Linked DNA regions of Homo sapiens. The protein of the gene in region 1 purifies or fractionates together with the protein of each later gene. This does not show direct contact. Each region holds a gene or a part of one and is shown in the gene's direction. Other genes may lie near its edges.

Region 1 (5,842 bases):
GAAAGAAACAGCCATGGGCCCTGATTGTTAGCTTTCTGGAAGCCATTTCATTTTTACAATAGATTTATCACACACTGTATTGACTTTTTCCAGTATAGAGTAAGAGAAAGTTAATATTCCTCATGTTTTGTCTGTTGACAGACTGAAAATAATTGCATTGAGTTTGGCTAGAATATCCTGTCATTCCATAAACATCTCAAACTCCACATGGCTAAAACTTAACCCATCCATGCCCCCATCTGCATGCACACATACATGCATATAACTTCATTTCTCAGTGTTTTTTTCTCCATGAATGGTAGCACCATTCTCTTTCAAGAAAGAGAAATACTTCCCCTTGGGATTATCCTATCTCTACTTATTGCTGCAGGGGCTTCCAAAATTAGGTTTTCTGTGTTCAGTCTTGCATTCACACTTCTGAAACCCAGAGCTGACCGAGACAAATTCTTCAACTTCCTGTCAGTCCCAACATAGATTTAAAATTCCTAACCTGGCTCATGAGGTTCACCATGTATTCCTGCTTCCCTAAGTCAGCCTCATATCACACCAACCTGTGTGTGGAGTGGCTAAATACTCTAGCCAGGCAAGCTCTCTCAGTTCTTCTACCTGGCTCCTCTGGAGCCCTCCTTATTGCTCATCCCATTCTTAGCCTGATTCAAGATTCCTGGTCCTTCAAATCTCTCTTTAAGTGTCCTTACCTGGATCTTTCTCTAGTTAGTACAAATTTTTCTATCTACCATTGGAGCGAACATTTTTTGAAACTTTGTATCAGTCCTGCCTTACTCTTGGTGGAATCCTGTGGTCCTAGTCAAGTGCCTGCTCCATGAATGTGCTGAATAAATGAATAAGCATTTTAATTGTGTATCTGTCATTAGTGTCAGATGTGTTATTTATTCCAGCATGGTTTTAGCACACAGACACACTCTTTGATGCAGACTTTTCTTTTCTTTTTACATATAGCAACAATAAAAAACTAGACTTTCATCTCCTGAAAATATCAGTCTAATAATCACCTATGGCTGTCTCTCTGGTTGCTGAAGGAAAAAAAAAAAAAAGGCAGGGCACACCTGGATTGCATTAGAATGAGACTCACTACCCAGTTCAGGTGTGTTGCGTTGTGGGTCTCCGGCACATTTCAGAGGCTCATTAGGACCCTGACCCCACACTGGGGTTTACACCCCTAAAAGCAGGTGTGTCCCGTGGCAACTGAGTGGGTGCGTGAAAAGGGGGGATCATCAATTACCAGCTGGAGCAATCCGAATCGGTTAAAGTGAATCAAGTCACAGTGCTTCCTTAACCCAACCTCTCTGTTGGGGTCAGCCACAGCCTAAACCGCCTGCCGTTCAGCCTGAGAGGCTGCTGCTAGCCTGCTCACGCATGCAGCCCGGGCTGCAGAGGAAGTGTGGGGAGGAAGGAAGTGGGTATAGAAGGGTGCTGAGATGTGGGTCTTGAAGAGAATAGCCATAACGTCTTTGTCACTAAAATGTTCCCCAGGGGCCTTCGGCGAGTCTTTTTGTTTGGTTTTTTGTTTTTAATCTGTGGCTCTTGATAATTTATCTAGTGGTTGCCTACACCTGAAAAACAAGACACAGTGTTTAACTATCAACGAAAGAACTGGACGGCTCCCCGCCGCAGTCCCACTCCCCGAGTTTGTGGCTGGCATTTGGGCCACGCCGGGCTGGGCGGTCACAGCGAGGGGCGCGCAGTTTGGGGTCACACAGCTCCGCTTCTAGGCCCCAACCACCGTTAAAAGGGGAAGCCCGTGCCCCATCAGGTCCGCTCTTGCTGAGCCCAGAGCCATCCCGCGCTCTGCGGGCTGGGAGGCCCGGGCCAGGACGCGAGTCCTGCGCAGCCGAGGTTCCCCAGCGCCCCCTGCAGCCGCGCGTAGGCAGAGACGGAGCCCGGCCCTGCGCCTCCGCACCACGCCCGGGACCCCACCCAGCGGCCCGTACCCGGAGAAGCAGCGCGAGCACCCGAAGCTCCCGGCTGGCGGCAGAAACCGGGAGTGGGGCCGGGCGAGTGCGCGGCATCCCAGGCCGGCCCGAACGCTCCGCCCGCGGTGGGCCGACTTCCCCTCCTCTTCCCTCTCTCCTTCCTTTAGCCCGCTGGCGCCGGACACGCTGCGCCTCATCTCTTGGGGCGTTCTTCCCCGTTGGCCAACCGTCGCATCCCGTGCAACTTTGGGGTAGTGGCCGTTTAGTGTTGAATGTTCCCCACCGAGAGCGCATGGCTTGGGAAGCGAGGCGCGAACCCGGCCCCCGAAGGGCCGCCGTCCGGGAGACGGTGATGCTGTTGCTGTGCCTGGGGGTCCCGACCGGCCGCCCCTACAACGTGGACACTGAGAGCGCGCTGCTTTACCAGGGCCCCCACAACACGCTGTTCGGCTACTCGGTCGTGCTGCACAGCCACGGGGCGAACCGATGGTGAGTAGAGTTGGACTGATGCGCCCTCAGCAGCTCAGAGCGGCGTGAGAATGGCGCCCTAGGGATTCCCTGCCCGATTCAAACTTTCCTCCCTCCCAAGGAGGCAGGAGGGAAACGCTGCGAGAGCCAGCTCGCTGGAAATCTGCCAGGGAAACTAACTTATCTTGGGGCGGCAGCGCCCCGGGTGCGTTATGGTGCAAGGTCTTGGAGCTTCGAGTCGGGGGTGGTGGGCGGAGGAGGAGGTGGGGAAGCTGCCCTGCTGCGGACTGCACATCTGTGGCGACAGGGAGCTCAGTGGGCAGCACAGCTCACGTCTGAGCGCACGTGCACGTGTCTCGCTTTAGGCTCCTAGTGGGTGCGCCCACTGCCAACTGGCTCGCCAACGCTTCAGTGATCAATCCCGGGGCGATTTACAGATGCAGGATCGGAAAGAATCCCGGCCAGACGTGCGAACAGCTCCAGCTGGGTGAGTTGGGTATGGGACCAGGAGTTAGTGACCTCCCGACCCCCCATGTGGACCCCACCATAGGGCAAGTCCTGGAAAGATTCACGTTGCCTGTTACTTCTGGTTTAAAGAGCATAAAGTTTTCAGTTTCAACTCCATCTCATCTTGCCTCCTTAATATAAAAGGGATTCCCTTTCTGTTAATATCGTTCTCCCTTTTCCTTATGGCAATGATTGCAGTACTCTGACAACTATGCTAGAGAAATTTCTTATGATACCTTCTCTTCATCTCTCCCCGTCTCTCCGTGTGTAAAGCACATTTTAGACTCTCTCAGCGTATTAAGGACAGGATCCAGCTAAGCCAAGACTTGAGAATTTTATTTCCATCTTTGACCTATCAACCCTCTTAAAGAACAGGCTAAGGAGCATATCAGGAATAGCAATTGGAATTGATCCCATATCCCGTCGTTTAACCTAAAGGCCTAAAAAAAAAAGTGATAGTTTTACTTACAATATACAATCTAAAAGAAAAGGAAAATTGGCATCTTCATCGTTAATGTAGTATAATTTTCCATTCCCAAAACCGTCATCCAAAACTCATGTTATATGGGTCCATCTTTTTGCAGTCATTTCTCAATGTCTCAGATTTGTGACAAGTTGAAAAATGTGTACTGATAGAGGGGAGAAGTTTCATGTTTCAAAGCCAAAGACAAGTTTGTTGCACACAGGCAAGTGGGGAAAGAGGAAGGAATATTAAATAACAAGACCTATCTTGTTCCAAAGTGTTACTGCTATATATATTGCTTAACTTTTTTCCCCTTAAAGCAACCCTGGGTCATGGTTGACATTGTTCCTAGTTTATGTATGAGGACTGTGGCTCAGAGTTGCAAATACCTTTTTAAAAGTTACTTAGCTAGTGACTGATAGGTGGGAACTAAAGTCAAACTAGGGTCTGAATGCGTCCAAAGTCTAAGCCATTTTCTTCCATGTATGTATCTTCAATGCAAATAAAATTAAGTGAATGGTTTAATATGTTGTCTGCTGAGCTGATGGGTCATCTGTAAACGGTGAATAAAATTGGTACTTCTTTATATTTCTTTGCTATAAATGGACTTTTGAGATTAGTTATTGGATCTTTAACTTCTTTTGTATTTTATAGTAGTCTTTGCTCTTTTTCAAACTGTGAAGCTGGTTCCCTTCATTCAGATGAATTCAGATAGAGTATAAACATAATGGAATTTTTACTTTTAACTCAGAGCACCTATAAAAGTCTACGAGTTGTCTGTAGCATGTAGAATAAGCCCTAGCCTCTTGTTAAGCATCCTCAATACCAGAAATCACAGTAGGAATGCATAAAACATTCACAGACCCATACATTTTGGAATGATTTTGCAAAGCATAATTTTCATTGCATGAGAGAGTTGTGGGTGAAGAATTAGGGAGTGGAGCCGACAACTTTGGTCTGCCAGAGGATCTTGGCAAGGTCTCAGGAGGGAGCAATTTTATTTCTGTTGTCCTGTCATAGTTTCCTGATCCATGACATTATAACTACTGATATTTAGTGCCTACTTCCTGTCTGGATGGACACTGAATCTATTTCTGGATGTCTGTGTTTAACTGGATAAATCATGACATAATACTGTATTAAATTTAAGATAATGCCTGTCAATGGAAGGAAAAAATTGTTTGGGCATGTGTAGCATGGGAGTTGACTGTTCTCAGAGAAATGTAAACATAGTAGATATGTCATAGATATGAATTAAATGAAGATCTTTTGGATGGATGAATGAATAAAAGTGGAGTGAAAATTTATCAACCTGACTGATGAGTAAGATAATTGATTAGAAATGATGAGCCAAACTGATTTTTAACTTTCAAAATTTTGGCCAATCTACAAGGTATTTACTGGGATGAAAGGAAAAAAGGCAAGATTCCTAGTCAGTCAATGAGTTAAAACATTAATAGTGATAGTAATGCCTTGAGTATTTGCCGAAGAGTTGACTGAAGTTATTTCTCATGTAACATTCTAAAGAATACAGATATCTTTTATTCCTCATGTAAAGAAACTGCCTCTCTATTCAGAATAAATTCAGTGGTAGCTTGAAGCTATAAAATAGGGATTGAGGCTACAGTCTAGAAATAAAACACTAAAAACAATACATTGGTAATAAAGATAATTTAGGATTCTTAGGTTTGTGGGCTATGCACTATTTTGTATGAAGAAGTTTCAAGAGTGTGTGTAAATATATATAAGCCATCTTCTGTAGAAGAGTGTGTGTGTGTGTGTGTGTGTGTGTGTGTGTGTGTGAATCTTCTGTATAAAATAGCTTCAGTTGTCCTGTTTCAAATGTGGGTGACTCTAATGTTTCAAAAATGCTTAGCTCAGTACTGACACATAATACATTCAAAAAATAGTGGTTCTTCTTTATTGTTTACTTAAATCTATTATCTGTATGTTATCTGTAACAAGCAGGCTGAGGTTAATAGGGACAATTGATAAACTGAACCAAAAGTTTAAAAATTAAAAGGTAATACATTAAAAGGTAGAAGTTGAAATGAAACACAATGAGAAATTTTTGTTGGCTGAAGAAAAAAATGTTATAATGATTAAAGATCGATCTGTGATTGCCATGTCAGTAAGGTATCTTCTTTCCTTTGGAATAGCTTTACTTGCTATCAAGAACCTGAAGGTGTAGGGTCTTCAAATGGTGCCCATCTCCCACACAATTAAAAATATCCACATGGACTAGTCTTTGAGTCTCTGTAGAATTTCAGATCAGTGGTTGATTCAGATAGACTCCTCCCCTCAAAAGAGAAGGTCCATATCTCGCCTACCCTACCCTCTGTGGACAAGGTGTCCCATATGGTATATTCATGCCATAAGCAGAAGTGAGCCTGCCTGTTTATCTAGAATGCCCAGGGTGAGAGACGTTAGGCATGAGATACCCCTTTTAGTCAAGCAAGTTGACTGCAGA
Region 2 (4,734 bases), about 110 Mb from region 1:
TTCACATGTTGAGAGTGGCTGACAGCAGAGACACTGTCTGTCTCCCCTAACACAAGCAGATGTAACACAAACTCTCACACACACAACTTGGTGGTAAAGCACCAAGAACAGGGCCTTGTTTTTACATAGCACATGCATAAGAAATACTTGTGTTTCTCAACTCCGTGTGTCTCTGTGTGTGTGTGTGTGTGTGTGTGTGCGCACGCACATGCGTGTGCGTGTGTGTGTGGTGTCTGGGAGAGGAGCCTCAGGGTGGCTGTGCTATATTTTGCACCCCCTTCCTCCTCCTCCTGCCCCTGCACAGGTGGACTAAGCAATGAAGAGGGATTCTGTCCCCACTGGGTGGTGAATTTGCTGGAACTAAAGGGCTTCCTTGCCACCCCCCGACACACACACTGGCCACAGTGGGTCAGACACAGGCCCACATGCTATCTTTCTGTTTCCCAGGGAGAAGGATGGCATCCGGAAGGCCCGTGAGGTCCTGATGCGGTTGGGCCTGGACCCGACTCAGGAGGACTGCGTGGCCACTCACCGGATCTGCCAGATCGTGTCCACACGCTCCGCCAGCCTGTGCGCAGCCACCCTGGCCGCCGTGCTGCAGCGCATCAAGGAGAACAAAGGCGAGGAGCGGCTGCGCTCTACTATTGGGGTCGACGGTTCCGTCTACAAGAAACACCCCCAGTGAGTCAGTGTGCAGGGCCTGGAGATGCGGAGTTCCTGGAGTACCTGGGGCTGAGTGACTCCTCATGCCAGCTCCATTTTGCATTTCAGGGGTGGTGTGGAGGGACCATAGAGCTGAGGGTCTTGGTGGAATGAAAGTTCCCACCTGGGCAAGGGGGAATGGGAGGAAGTCATATCTGGTGTGGGTGGAGGTGATTTCTGAAGGCTACTGATGACTCGGGCTCTCCGCAGAGCTCCTCTGGCTGCTGGACACTCTCTTTGCCACCCTCTTGTATGCGTTATTGTTCCTGTCTTTACTCTTAGAATTCTTGGTGATTCCTGCAGGTGCTATGTCCTCTGCCAGGGACCACCCCAGCCCAGTGAGGGTTACCAGCTTCTCTGGCTGACCTTGGTATTAAATTGATCCTGCCCTGTCCACATTTTGATCCCTCAGGTCATAGGTACCAGAATATTCACATGTCAGCTGAGACCTGGAAGATGTCTCTTTATTGTGCCTACTTATTTCCCCATCATTTTCACCTAATAAGAATGCCAGGTCAATGTGCCTTTGTTTTCTTAACTTGTCGGTGCAGGAGGCCTCAGCCCTGAGATTCCCTCTTCCTACCCAGTGTTGCAAAAACTCGAGTGTGCACGTGAATCACATGGGGATCTTGCTAAGAGGCAGATTCTGATCAGAAGGTCTGGGGTGAGTCTGAGATCCCGCATCTCTAACAGCCCCCAGTAGGCTGCAGCCTACTCCTGCACTTGGAGTAGGAAGGCCCTGGAGACCATGGCTCCAAGTGGCCACTACCCAGAGAGTTCCTGGCTGAACACGTTGTCTTTAGCTGTGCAGACACCTTTGGGATCATTGGCAGAAACTGGCAAAAGAGAGGCTAAAGTCCAGAAGAGCATCTCTAGCTTTTAATTTTGGGTCTTTCCCAGACAGCAGCTAGTGAAATGAGTGATAGAACAAGACAGATAGGTGGCATCAGAACCACCTAATACCACAGGGCTGCTCCAGCAAAGAGGCTGATGGTACCATGTTGGGCAAGGGAGCAGTGGCCAGGGGGCCTTCTTCAGTGAGGAAGAGGAGGTCTTGTGTGGCTGCATGTAGGGGACAGTGGCTTATTAAAAGGTCTTTTCCTTTCATTGGCGGGGGTGAACCAATCCTGGGTGGTCATAGTTGATATGGTTCTTGTAGTGGTTCCTAACTTGGGACAGTGGAGAGAGGATGTTTAGGGCAGCACCCACTCCTGCAGGTGCCTTTTGGCATTTGGATTAAGGCGGTGGGCAACTGTCTAACTATTTGCACCATTGACCCTAACCATGGACACCTGTCTCTTACCCGCCCTGGGGAACTGCAGTTTTGCCAAGCGTCTACATAAGACCGTGCGGCGGCTGGTGCCCGGCTGCGATGTCCGCTTCCTCCGCTCCGAGGATGGCAGTGGCAAAGGTGCAGCCATGGTGACAGCAGTGGCTTACCGGCTGGCCGATCAACACCGTGCCCGCCAGAAGACATTAGAGCATCTGCAGCTGAGCCATGACCAGCTGCTGGAGGTCAAGAGGAGGATGAAGGTAGAAATGGAGCGAGGTCTGAGCAAGGAGACTCATGCCAGTGCCCCCGTCAAGATGCTGCCCACCTACGTGTGTGCTACCCCGGACGGCACAGGTACACGGCAGGGTTGCCACCTGGCTCACATGGTGGGCCTTTGTCCTGGTGTTGATACCCTGGGAGGGATCCCTTAGCATTAGCATTGGACATTTGAACCAGAACACGTTTCTTCAGCCGTATTACTAGGGAGTTCTAGTCTTTGATAAACTCAAACAAGGTGCTCCTCTGCAAACAGTAGTAATGGTCAACACTTATTGAATGCTTACTGTGTGTCAAAGCACTTTATGTGTATGAGCTCATTTAATCTTTGTTAACTGTTAAAAAATATTAGCAGTTAATTTTATGTATTCACCTATGTTTGACAGAAAACTGAGGCGCAGAGAAGTTAAGACACCTGCCTAAATTCACACAACTAGAAAATGTCGGAGCTGGGATTCAAACCCAGGAATTCAGGTTCTAGAATCTGCTCTTGCAATCACCACATTGGTCTGAGTCAGGGTTGGCAAACTATGGCCCATGGGCTGAATCTGGCCCACCACCTGTTTTTGTACATAAGGTTTTATTACACAGCCATGCCCATGCGTCTGCACGTTGCTTATGGTTGTTTTGCACTGTCTTGGCAAAGTTGAGTGGTGGCAGCAAAGACTGCATGACCCACAGGGCCTAAAACGTTTGCTGTCTGGGCCTTTACAGAAAAAGATTTCTGACCCCTGCTGTAAGTCTTGTAACCTCAGAAATGGTGGTCTTATTCCAATTCAGAGAAGACAGTCGATGAGCAGGCCAGTGTAGCACAGTTGTTACAGGTTCCAGAGACAGACTGGGATTTGGTCCCTGCTCTACCCTGTCCTGGTCGTATGGCCCCGGGCAAGTGATTTAACTATCAGCCAGATCCCAATCATCCTTAAGAGAGGAATGCAGTGTCTCCCTCACAGGGCTGCCTAAGGGTTGAACGAGGACTGTGTGTGAAGCATGTGGCACACTGTAATTGTCCAACAAGGGAGGGTTTTCTCAGTTTAAAAGATTTCCCTTCAGCTTCCTTCAGGGAGCTGGACTCTTCTGTTCCTTCTGTATTCTAGAATGTAATATAAAGTGGCATTTGATGGAACAGGAATGGTGTATTTGGATCGTTTTAAGTGTACTGTCTCCACATTCCCCATGTTCTGCCCCAACTTATCACTTCCCTGGGCTTATTTTCCAGAGAAAGGGGACTTCTTGGCCTTGGACCTTGGAGGAACAAATTTCCGGGTCCTGCTGGTCCGTGTTCGGAATGGGAAGTGGGGTGGAGTGGAGATGCACAACAAGATCTACGCCATCCCGCAGGAGGTCATGCACGGCACCGGGGACGAGGTGAGCAGGGCGGCGCCTTCAGGAGGGGGCCCCTGGTGGACGTCACCTCTTGCCTTCGAGGACAGTGCTTTCTCTGCTCATCTGTGACCCTGGGGAGGGCTAGCTGGACCCAGGGCTGCAGCCTGGTCTTGACTCAGGTTTGTGCCTGAGCCTGCATTTCTTCTGGGTGGAAAGAAACATTGATGTTGTGCGCAGGCCCTACTGGGGGCAGCCTGCCCTGCCCAGGGCCCCTCCCTCAGTGTCCTAACTTCTCCCTGCAGCTCTTTGACCACATTGTCCAGTGCATCGCGGACTTCCTCGAGTACATGGGCATGAAGGGCGTGTCCCTGCCTCTGGGTTTTACCTTCTCCTTCCCCTGCCAGCAGAACAGCCTGGACGAGGTAACAGCACCTTCCTGGAGGGCTCTCCTGTGGGCTTTATTGACTCTAAACAAAACCAGCCAGGTATGGAGCAGGGGAGAAAGTTGAGCTAAGACTAAGGAAAGGAGGGCGTGAGTTACCAGTAGTGGGGAGGGGCTCCTTGATGGGAATGAGTAAGTTGAGGCTGGTGGAGGTTAAGTAGGTTAGCTCAGCTGTGACAGCCTTTGGGACAACGATGATGATGCTACTCAATGTTAACAACTGCCGGGTGTGGTGACTCATACCTGTAATCTCAGCACTTTGGGAGGCTGAGGCAGGAGGATTACTTGAGGCCAGGATTTCAAGACTAGCCTAGGCAACATAGGAAGACCCCATCTCTATTGAACTTATATATATATATATAGCATTTTTAAGCACTTACTGTGTGCCAGGTACTATGTTAGGTTTCTTACCTGCATTATCTCGTTTAACCCTCACAGCAACCATATAAGAGATATGTTTGAATACCCATTCTACAGAAAGGAAGATAAGCCCCACAGAGGTGCTGGGTGTCTTGCTCCAGGTCATAATAGCTTGGGACTGGCCAAGCCAAGATTTGGATTCTGGGTTCCTGATGCCTGAGCCTGTGCTGTCAGTTATGCTGTGGGGCTCCTGAGGCCCTTGTTATGGGCTCAGGGCATTTTCATGCCATATCCTGTTGTTTGGATGCCCTGGCTCTTCTCTGGTCTCATCTTGCTTCTCACTCCTCTTCAGGTT
Region 3 (4,734 bases), on another chromosome or scaffold:
GTTTAATACCTTTTAATGGCATACTGTGATCAGAAATAGCTATTTCAGTTAGTTAAACAGCCCAACTGTTCTTGTCCTGTTTTTTCTTAAATTAAACTCAGAGGCACTCACACATCTGAAAAATTAATGAGGGTAAAAGAAAATGAAAGATACTACTTGTCACAGACTTTTTTTTAAATGATAACTTGAATCAATAACTTGATTAGACTATGATGCTTTTGATGCTTTCAAAACTGTTTGAGGTATGTAGGTGTCTTTTCCTGTAGAGTTGATTACCCTGGTCTGTTGTGGTTCTTGAGTACTTAAGATTTTTTATCTTCTCTGTTGTTCCCTTATTAGCAATTTTATCCCCTTCTGATCTGATACTGACTTGGAAAGCTCGTCACCCACCTTGTTAGAATTGTTAAGTAAATATAAATAGACTTTGAGAAGGAAAGGTCTCAAGGGTGGCTCACTAGATACTTAAGTCATAGATTGATCAAGTATCTCTGCATGAGGTTATTAGCAAAACATTTAAAAAGACACTTTAAGACTTCTCTCATTAGGGACTAAACCAGAAAGGTATAGGGCTCATCCTTCATAAAAATCATGAATAAGCAATAAAAAGGGTAAAATGGAAAACTGGAATCTATATTTGAATGTGAGATTCTCATCTTTTTAGCTTTAAGATTTTTTAAGTTTTACCAGTTTTCCTCAAAGAGAAGATGAAGTTACTTCAAGAGAACTGATTTCTGTCATGTGAGTGTAGGTAAGAAAATTCTTAACTACTTTGAGATATTTTTCTTCAGATTATTAATGAGTTTTTTGCACCACTAGATAGAATTTCCAAGATTTTCCTGCTTACTTTTGGAAACATTGTCTCTACCATTACTGAATATTAAATAATAGCCATGTACCCCTCCCTCACACCATATACGAAAATAAAATTATTTGTGGCCTAAATGTAAGCGAAAAATCTATAACCTTGTTTAGGTAATGGTTTATTGATGACACCAAAAGCTCAAGCAGCAAAACCAAAAATTGACAAATTGGGCATCATTAAAATGAAAAATCTTTGTGCTTCAAAAAATGCCATCAAGAAAATAAAAAGACGGCCCACAGAACAGGAGAAATTTTTTATAAATCATATATCTGATAAAGGATTTGTATCCAGGATGTATACATAACCCTTAAAACCCAACCACAAAAAGAGCCCAATTAGAAAATAGGCAAAGGATAAATATCTATCCAACGTGGATACGCAAATGGCCAATAAGCATGTGGAAAGATGCTCAGCATCATTAGTCCTTAGGGAAATGCAAATCAAAACCACAAGATACTACTTAACATCTCCTAGAATGACTGTAATTCAAAGATGGACAATAAGATGTGTTGGGTAAGATCTGAAGAAATTAGAATCCTCATTCACTGCTGAGGGAATGTAAAATAGTACAGTCACTTTGGAAAAATTTTGGCATTTTCTCAAAAAGTTAAATACAGAATTATCATGTGACCCAGAAATTCTACTTCTAGCTACAAACCCAAGAGAAATGAAAACATAGATCCACACAAAATTTTGTATGTGAATGTTCATAGCAGCGTTATTCGTAATAACCAAAAAGTGGAAACAATACAGGTATCCAAGAAATGATGAATGGATAAACAAAATGTGGCATATTCATGAAATGGAATACTATTCAGCTATCAAAAGTAATGAAGTATGAATACATATTACATCATGGATGAGCCTTGAAAACATGCTAGAGAAAGGAAACCAGATGCAATAGGCCACATATAGATGATTCCTATAAATTTTCCCATTTATATGAAATGTCCAGAATAGGTAAATCTGCAGGGACAGAAAGAAGATAAATCGTTGCCACTGGCTATGGAGAAGAAAGAATGGGGAGTGACTGCTAATGGTTTTGGGGTGTTTTGGTGGGGAGGGGAGGTTGAAAACGTTTTGAAATTAGGTATTACTAGTTATACTACCTTGTAAATATACTAAAAAGCCACTGAATTGTACACTTTTTACATTACACTATGTAAATTGTACATCAATAAAGCTGTAATTTTTTAAAAGTATGGATAGTGTCATGTACACCCATGTTAATAATATGGTACTCTGTTATTCCTAGATTTCTCTTTTGACAGTAATAAATTTGATTTCTTTTGCAGCAACAAAATGCTTCAACAAGTTCCAGAAAACATAAATTTTCCTGCTGAAGAAGAGAAAATCTTGGAGTTTTGGACTGAATTTAATTGTTTTCAGGAATGCTTAAAGCAATCAAAACATAAACCAAAGTATGTGAATTTTTTAGGTTAAGTTCCCTTAAGAATAGTCATTTCTTAGACTGAATTCCATTAAAGCAGATACTTTTTTTTTTTTTTTTTTTTTGAGATGGAGTCTCGCACTGTCATCCAGGCTGGAGGGCAGTGGTGCAATCTCTGCTCACTGCTACCTCTGCCTCCCGGATGCAAGTGATTCTCCTGCCTCAGCCTCCCGAGTAGCTGGGATTACAGGTGCCCGCCATCACACCAGCTAATTCTTGTGTTTTAGTAGAGACGGGGTTTCACCATGTTGCCCAGGCTGGTCTCGGACTCCTGACCTCAAGTGATCCACCCACCTCGGCCTCTCAAAGTGCTGGGATTACAAGTGTGAGCCATCACGCGCGGCCTAAAGCAGATACTCTTTATTAATCTTTCTATTCCCAGAATCCCCCAGCTCCCTATGTAGTGGGTACTCAGTAGTAGATATACATTGAATGAATGAGTTCTCAATTATTGGGGTAAATTTTGTTTCTTTAAAAGGTCATCTGAGTAAAATTTATGTGTCATCCTCCGTGTCACCCTCTTTCCACCTTTATTTTCATCACCACCCTCGTTTAGGCACTTATACCTAAGTACCCCATAGAAGGCTACTATAGTACTACCTGCCTTTAGTCCTCATTCACCTAAAAGACTAGTCCTTTAATCAGTGTTTTCATTATATGTCTCCTCTGGTCAAAAACTATGAGATAGGGGTTTATTGCCCTATTTTACTGATGAGATAACTCAAGATCAGGATAAATAATTTGCCTTATGTCATGGAACTAATAAATGAAAAATGGATAATCAAATGGAGGTCTCTGTAGCTCTACCACAATTGTAGCCTTTCTGAAGGCAGGACCACCAGTAAATATCAAATCAATTATGTCTGTCGGTTTCCTGATCTTGCTGCTTTTCTCCTTGAAGACTCCACTATGACAAGAGCTATCTATAGAAAAATGCCTTAAATTTTGGCTGTTTTTAAATGGCTTGATATATTTTTATTACCTGTTAGATTTACCTTCTATGATGGTCCTCCTTTTGCAACTGGACTGCCTCACTATGGACATATACTTGCGGGTACAATTAAAGATATAGTTACAAGATATGCTCACCAGAGTGGGTTTCATGTTGACAGAAGATTTGGATGGGATTGCCATGGCTTACCTGTGGTATGTTTGAGTATCCAGCTTTATAATTTTCTGATTTTTTTTATAAGCATTAGATTTTGTCATATAATATGTTCAAGTATGATGAACGTTGACTGTCAGACCTTCTAGTTCATTTCTATAATATTTGTAGTTTGATTTGTTTTGTTTTCTAGAGTTGCATAGTTGCAGTTGTTTTCATAGGGCAGCGTGGTAACAGTCTTATCACAAATTTTCAGGAATATGAAATTGATAAGACACTGGGAATCAGAGGACCAGAGGATGTGGCCAAAATGGGGATTACAGAGTATAACAATCAGTGCCGAGCAATTGTGATGAGATATTCTGCTGAGTGGAAGGTATGTTGGGTTTTTTTCAGTAGAATGAACAGCAAATGTAGTTACTAAATGGGCATTGAAATGGTTTATGGTCCCTTGTGCTTTTTTTATTAATTTATTTTTTGTAGAAAAAGTGTTAGCTTCCACCTTCAACCCTATTACTTAAACGGTTAGCTTAAACTGAACCATCTCTCTTCTGACTTCTGTGTGCTTAATTGGTCTAACTTTCTTGCATGATCACCAATAGGGAAAAATTCTAATAAGTATAACATGATATATAGGCCTTTTCTTTTTTTCTCAAATACTTTTTTCAATTTTTTTAACTTTTCATTTTGAAATAATTTGACTTATTAAACAATTGAAAAAGTAGTATGATGGGTTCCCCTATATCCTTCATCCATCTTTCCCAGCTGCTAACATCTTCGGTAACCATAATATTAATAGAATTTTCAAAAGCAGTTGCCCCATTAATTTTTATTTCTGACCAATCACATATTGCATTTGGTTGTCATGTCTTTTTAGTCTTCTTAAGTATGGAACATTTATTTAGTCCTTTGTATTTCATGGCCTTCTCACTTTTGAAGATTGCAGAACAGCTATTTTCTATAATGTCTCTCAATGTGTGAGGTTTCCTGATTTAATTTAGGTTATGCATTTTTGGTGACAATGCCACAGAAGTGATGCTATGCCCTTCTCAATGCATTATATCAGGTGGCATGTGTTGCGGCTATGTCACATTGATGGTGATAACTTTGTTCACTTGGTTAAAGTGCTGTCAGCTTTCTGCTTTGTAAAGTTGTAGTTTTTCCTTTGTAATTAATAAGTATCTTGTGGGGAGATTCTTTCCAAATATTCTTTTTTTTGTCATACATTCACTTATTAATTTTAACATCCATGGATGGTTTTTGCCAGTAATAATTATGCCTGTGATATTTGCCAAGTGGTGGTTTTGGTAGACTTTT
Region 4 (4,734 bases), on another chromosome or scaffold:
GGGAAGTTTTCTTCATGGACAAAGCTGAGGCTCAGGAGATGTTTGTTGTGGCAATAATAGAATTATAGTGTTCAAGGCCAAAAATATTAACAATAAAGGCCAAGGATATCACTTACTACCAAACAGGCATTAGTAATCACCATGAACTTTATGGCATTTGAATAATATTTTCACTCTCCTATTTATCTGTCCCTTGTAAATTACCTTCATAGATGAACTATCATGAATTTAATATGTATTATTCACAGTAACTTGAGACAACAGGAACAACCAAAATATTTTCATCTTGCTTATTTTGCTATAGACAAAAACGTATTTGAAAGTTCTTCCCGTGATGTTATATATTTTTATCTCCCAGTTTCTTTGATGTGCATTGACCATTGAAATCACGGCGAATATATACTGTGTACGTATGTAATAGGGGCAAATCACAGACACTTTATTGTGATTGCAGCTTTTAGAAGAGAAGAATATCCTTGCAGAACAACTACAAGCAGAGACTGAGCTCTTTGCTGAAGCAGAAGAGATGAGGGCAAGACTTGCTGCTAAAAAGCAGGAATTAGAAGAGATTCTACATGACTTGGAGTCTAGGGTTGAAGAAGAAGAAGAAAGAAACCAAATCCTCCAAAATGAAAAGAAAAAAATGCAAGCACATATTCAGGTATGTATAATAATTTTTACTTAGAAGCATATTTTGGATTTTCAAGTGGATCTGTTGAATAAACAGAAGTTATGTGTTTGGATTCTTAAGTCCACAGAGAAGCAAAAGGGTTCTGGGTTATGAGAAGCCACTCTTAGAAAGATGACCATCATTTGAAACACACCTATAATAGATTTTCTTTGAACAAAGATTTGTCATTTTGTATAGGAATCTTTTTTATGTTCTAAGTGGCATCTTACAGTTTGCAAAGAGATTCACAGTCGCAAACCTCCCAGGATCTATAGCATTCTGTAGAAGACCTAACTTGTTCTTCATGTTGTCAGTGATTCTGTTGCTCACTCCATTCATTAGATAGACATCTACTACGTGGTTTGGCTAATAAGAAACGCTCAGCACTGACATAGGAGGTGGCCAACAGTCAGAATGAGAATTTTTAAAAATTAGCCCTTCCCTGGTACTTAACTTTCTTTTTGAAATACAGGCTGTACTCATGAGGCACAATTTTTGGATTGTGATTGAAACAGACAAATGTGCTTTTTAAATGGTCTTTATATTTTAGAGGTACAGCCTGAAGGTTTTACAAGTGAAATATGATGTCTGGGATTTGCTTCAAAATAACCTAGGGGGAGAAGGGAGCAGGTGGAGGCACACATGAAATGGAATTGACCATGAGTTGATGCTTGTTAAGGTCAAGGTGATGCTTCTGTGTGGGGCTTATTATGCTGGTCTGTGTGCTTGTATGTGTGTTTGAAATTTTTACAAGAAAACACTCATTTTTTGCCATGGTTTCATTCTAAAATTAACGATGAGTAAATTATTTAGCCGAAGTTACTCTTGAACATTTCCTTAAGTTGGCCATGTGTTGATTTGTACAACCCTAGTTTTGGTTTTTTGGGGTTTGTTTTTGTTTTTGTTTTTTTGTTCTGTTTTTGAGACGGAGTCTCGCTTTGTTGCCCAGGCTGGAGTGCAATGGCGCAATCTCGGCTCACTGCAACCTCCACCTCCTCGGTTCAAGTGATTCCCTTGCCTCAGCCTCCCCAGTAGCTGGGATTACAGGCGCCTGCTACCACGCCCAGCTAATTTTTGTATTTTTAGTAGAGACGAGGTTTCACCACGTTGGCCAGGCTGGTCTCGAACTCTTGACCTCAGGTGATCCACCCACCTCGGCCTCCCAAAGTGCTAGGACTACAGGCGTGAGCCACTGCGCCCAGCCTGGGTTTTGTTTTGTTTAACTTTTTTTTTAATTTCGTTTTTTGGAGGGGATGGGAGCTTTCCACCAGAAACCAGAAATCCTGCTAGACAAATTCTAAAAGAGCTGTAACACTTTGTTTTTAATTTTAATTTTTATGCGTATATATTAAGTGTGTGTGTGTGTATGTATGTATGTGTGTATATATATATATATATATATATATATATATATATATATATATATGGGGTACATGAGATGTTTTGATACAGGCATGTAGTGTGTAATAATCACCTCATATAAAATGGGGTAATCTATCTGTGATCCTGTGTAATAGCATGTTTATCATAAACAGTAATGTAGATTATAAAGATCTGCACGTTCTAATAAAAATACATGTAAACTCTATGCTCCCGCCCAGTTTGATGAGGTGCTTCTGCTGTGAAAGGTACACTTGAACTGAGACAGCTCATTTCTCACGACCTGTACTATTTAAATTATTGTTTTCATGTTCTCTTTCTCTCTTCTTTGGCCGAACATGTATATAGTTGGATTCAGCTAAATTAAATACACATTTGATGAGTGCTACTACATTATTCATGTTTGTCTGTGTTGCTATTATTCCAAAATGTGAATTTTAATTACTATATATTATTCCATTTAACAAATGTGCCAACATTTAATTACCAAGACCTTTTTGTAGCATGTTCATAGTTACTCAATATTATAAATAACTTATCACTGTATGTCTTTTTATATAAATTGCATCTGTGACAATTTCCTGAAATTGCTGGTTGAAAGGAAAGGCTCATTTTTAAAGCTATGTTTTGCCATGTTGGCTTCTAGAAGGATTGACCCAGTTTGTACTTTAGCCTGTAGCGGATACAAATGTCTATTTCACATAACTGCATTTCATATTTTTTTAAATATCCTTGGCATTTTGAGAATCAAAAATTAGTATCTAGGCTGAGGCGGATGGATCATGAGGTCAGGAGATCAAGACCATCCTGGCTAACATGGTGAAACCCCATCTCTACCAAAAAAAAAATCAAAAAATTAGCCGGGCGTGGTGGCGGGCACCTGTAGTCCCAGCTACTCGGGAGGCTGAGGCAGGAGAATGGCGTGAACCCAGGAGGTGGAGGTTGCAGCGAGCCGAGGTGGCACCACTGCACTTCAGCCTGGGCAACAGAGCGAGACTCCGTGTCAAAAAAAAAAAAAAAATTAGTATCTCATTGTAATGCATTCCTGTGCACAATGAATGTGTGGTCAAATCTCGAGAAAGTGGCGAGACTGACTGTGTGTTCTTCACAAGGACCTGGAAGAACAGCTAGACGAGGAGGAAGGGGCTCGGCAAAAGCTGCAGCTGGAAAAGGTGACAGCAGAGGCCAAGATCAAGAAGATGGAAGAGGAGATTCTGCTTCTCGAGGACCAAAATTCCAAGTTCATCAAAGTAAGAGAGTGTTCCCACAAAAAGCTGATTTTAGTTACAGAAAATATTTATATAATATTATGTTGATACACTCATTGAAAGTGAACTCAAACAGAAATTTCTCAAGATTTTAGGTTCATTTACTGAATTTTCTCTGTAAGTCTCTACTTGTATAGATTTCTAAAGATACAGGCACCATTGAATTTTTTAAACCTTATCAAATATCCTGATAATCTTTTAGACTTGTAACATGTGCAGTTTGTGCATAATGGTCACTCAATGATGACTTGTCTCCATCTGTGCAAGCATTAATTCATCCACCATTGACTGTGGGACTCTGAATACCAGGCAGCTGGGCCAAGCTCCCGGGGTGGGCACCAAGACGTGTAAGCCTTTCTGCCCTTTTGGAGTACAGTCGTGTGTTGTTTAACGATGAGGACACATTCTGGGAAATGCATTGTGAAGTTATTTTATCCTCGTACAAACATCATAGAGTGTATGGACACAAACTAGATGGTAGAGCCTGCTATACACCTAGACCAGACGCTGGGCTGATTGCATCTAGGCCACACACTTGTACAGCATGTTACTGTCCTGAATACTGTAGGCAGTTGGAACACAGTGCTAATAAGTACTTGTGTATCTAAACATATCCACACAAAAGTCCAGTAAAAATATGATAGAAAAGGTACGGTAAAAATGATAGAAAAGATTTAAAATGGCACACCTCTATTGGGCACTCACCATGAACGGAGCTTGCAGGACTGGAAGCTGCTCTGGGTGAGTCAGTGAGTGAGCGCTGAGTGAATGTGAAGGCCTAGGACATTGCTGTACATGACTGCAGACTTTATCAACATGGCACACTGAGGCTGCAGTACATTTATTTTAAAAATAGAGTAATTGCACTGTGGTGTTATGACAGCTCTCGATGAAGTTTTCAGCTCCATGATCATCTTAGGAGACCACTGTCGTGTATCCGGTTCATCATTGTCCAAAACATCGTTCTGCAGCATGTGATTGTGTACAGTCTGCTGGGGGAGGCAGTGCCGATAGAACTTATTTTCTCTCGAGTCAAAGTTGACCTTTATGAGGAATACAGAACCCAAGTGGTCATTCTGAATGGCTTTTCTGAAGCAGTCAATTTTTCCTGTCCAGGAAAAGAAACTCATGGAAGATCGCATTGCTGAGTGTTCCTCTCAGCTGGCTGAAGAGGAAGAAAAGGCGAAAAACTTGGCCAAAATCAGGAATAAGCAAGAAGTGATGATCTCAGATTTAGAAGGTTAGTATTTGGGGCTAGAGAAATCAGGGACTAGGACATGTGAGTGTTTAGCTTTTACTGTAATCAGAACATGCAAAAATAAAAAATATACATGATGATTACTAATAATAAGGACCTTCAGTTTGGGTTGACTTATTAAAATAGGTCCCTTGGCTGGGCACGGTGTCTCAGGCCTG

The links. Proteins that work in one complex are often made in the same cells at the same time.
Region 2: the proteins of ITGA4 (region 1) and HK2 purify together in Homo sapiens (affinity purification with mass spectrometry, with the first as the bait; one large-scale study listed by BioGRID). This does not show direct contact.
Region 3: the proteins of ITGA4 (region 1) and IARS1 purify together in Homo sapiens (affinity purification with mass spectrometry, with the first as the bait; one study listed by BioGRID). This does not show direct contact.
Region 4: the proteins of ITGA4 (region 1) and MYH10 purify together in Homo sapiens (affinity purification with mass spectrometry, with the first as the bait; one large-scale study listed by BioGRID). This does not show direct contact.

The regions. Positions count from the first base shown.
Region 1 is NC_000002.12:181,455,429-181,461,270, forward strand, and holds the start of ITGA4 (integrin alpha-4 isoform 1 preproprotein), read left to right. Parts: upstream 1-1,957; 5' UTR 1,958-2,226; coding exon 2,227-2,423; intron 2,424-2,767; coding exon 2,768-2,889; intron 2,890-5,842. UniProt on the Homo sapiens protein: Integrins alpha-4/beta-1 (VLA-4) and alpha-4/beta-7 are receptors for fibronectin. They recognize one or more domains within the alternatively spliced CS-1 and CS-5 regions of fibronectin. They are also receptors for VCAM1.
Region 2 is NC_000002.12:74,878,241-74,882,974, forward strand, and holds part of HK2 (hexokinase-2), read left to right. Parts: intron 1-447; coding exon 448-681; intron 682-2,024; coding exon 2,025-2,329; intron 2,330-3,470; coding exon 3,471-3,619; intron 3,620-3,879; coding exon 3,880-3,999; coding exon of another isoform or gene 4,000-4,062; intron 4,063-4,734. UniProt on the Homo sapiens protein: Catalyzes the phosphorylation of hexose, such as D-glucose and D-fructose, to hexose 6-phosphate (D-glucose 6-phosphate and D-fructose 6-phosphate, respectively).
Region 3 is NC_000009.12:92,286,850-92,291,583, reverse strand, and holds part of IARS1 (isoleucine--tRNA ligase, cytoplasmic), read left to right. Parts: intron 1-661; exon of another isoform or gene 662-748; intron 749-2,157; 5' UTR 2,158-2,164; coding exon 2,165-2,283; intron 2,284-3,301; coding exon 3,302-3,458; intron 3,459-3,610; coding exon of another isoform or gene 3,611-3,673; coding exon 3,674-3,793; intron 3,794-4,734. UniProt on the Homo sapiens protein: Catalyzes the specific attachment of an amino acid to its cognate tRNA in a 2 step reaction: the amino acid (AA) is first activated by ATP to form AA-AMP and then transferred to the acceptor end of the tRNA.
Region 4 is NC_000017.11:8,508,378-8,513,111, reverse strand, and holds part of MYH10 (myosin-10), read left to right. Parts: intron 1-454; coding exon 455-661; intron 662-1,926; exon of another isoform or gene 1,927-1,986; intron 1,987-3,162; coding exon 3,163-3,300; intron 3,301-4,023; exon of another isoform or gene 4,024-4,361; intron 4,362-4,434; coding exon 4,435-4,558; intron 4,559-4,734. UniProt on the Homo sapiens protein: Cellular myosin that appears to play a role in cytokinesis, cell shape, and specialized functions such as secretion and capping. Involved with LARP6 in the stabilization of type I collagen mRNAs for CO1A1 and CO1A2.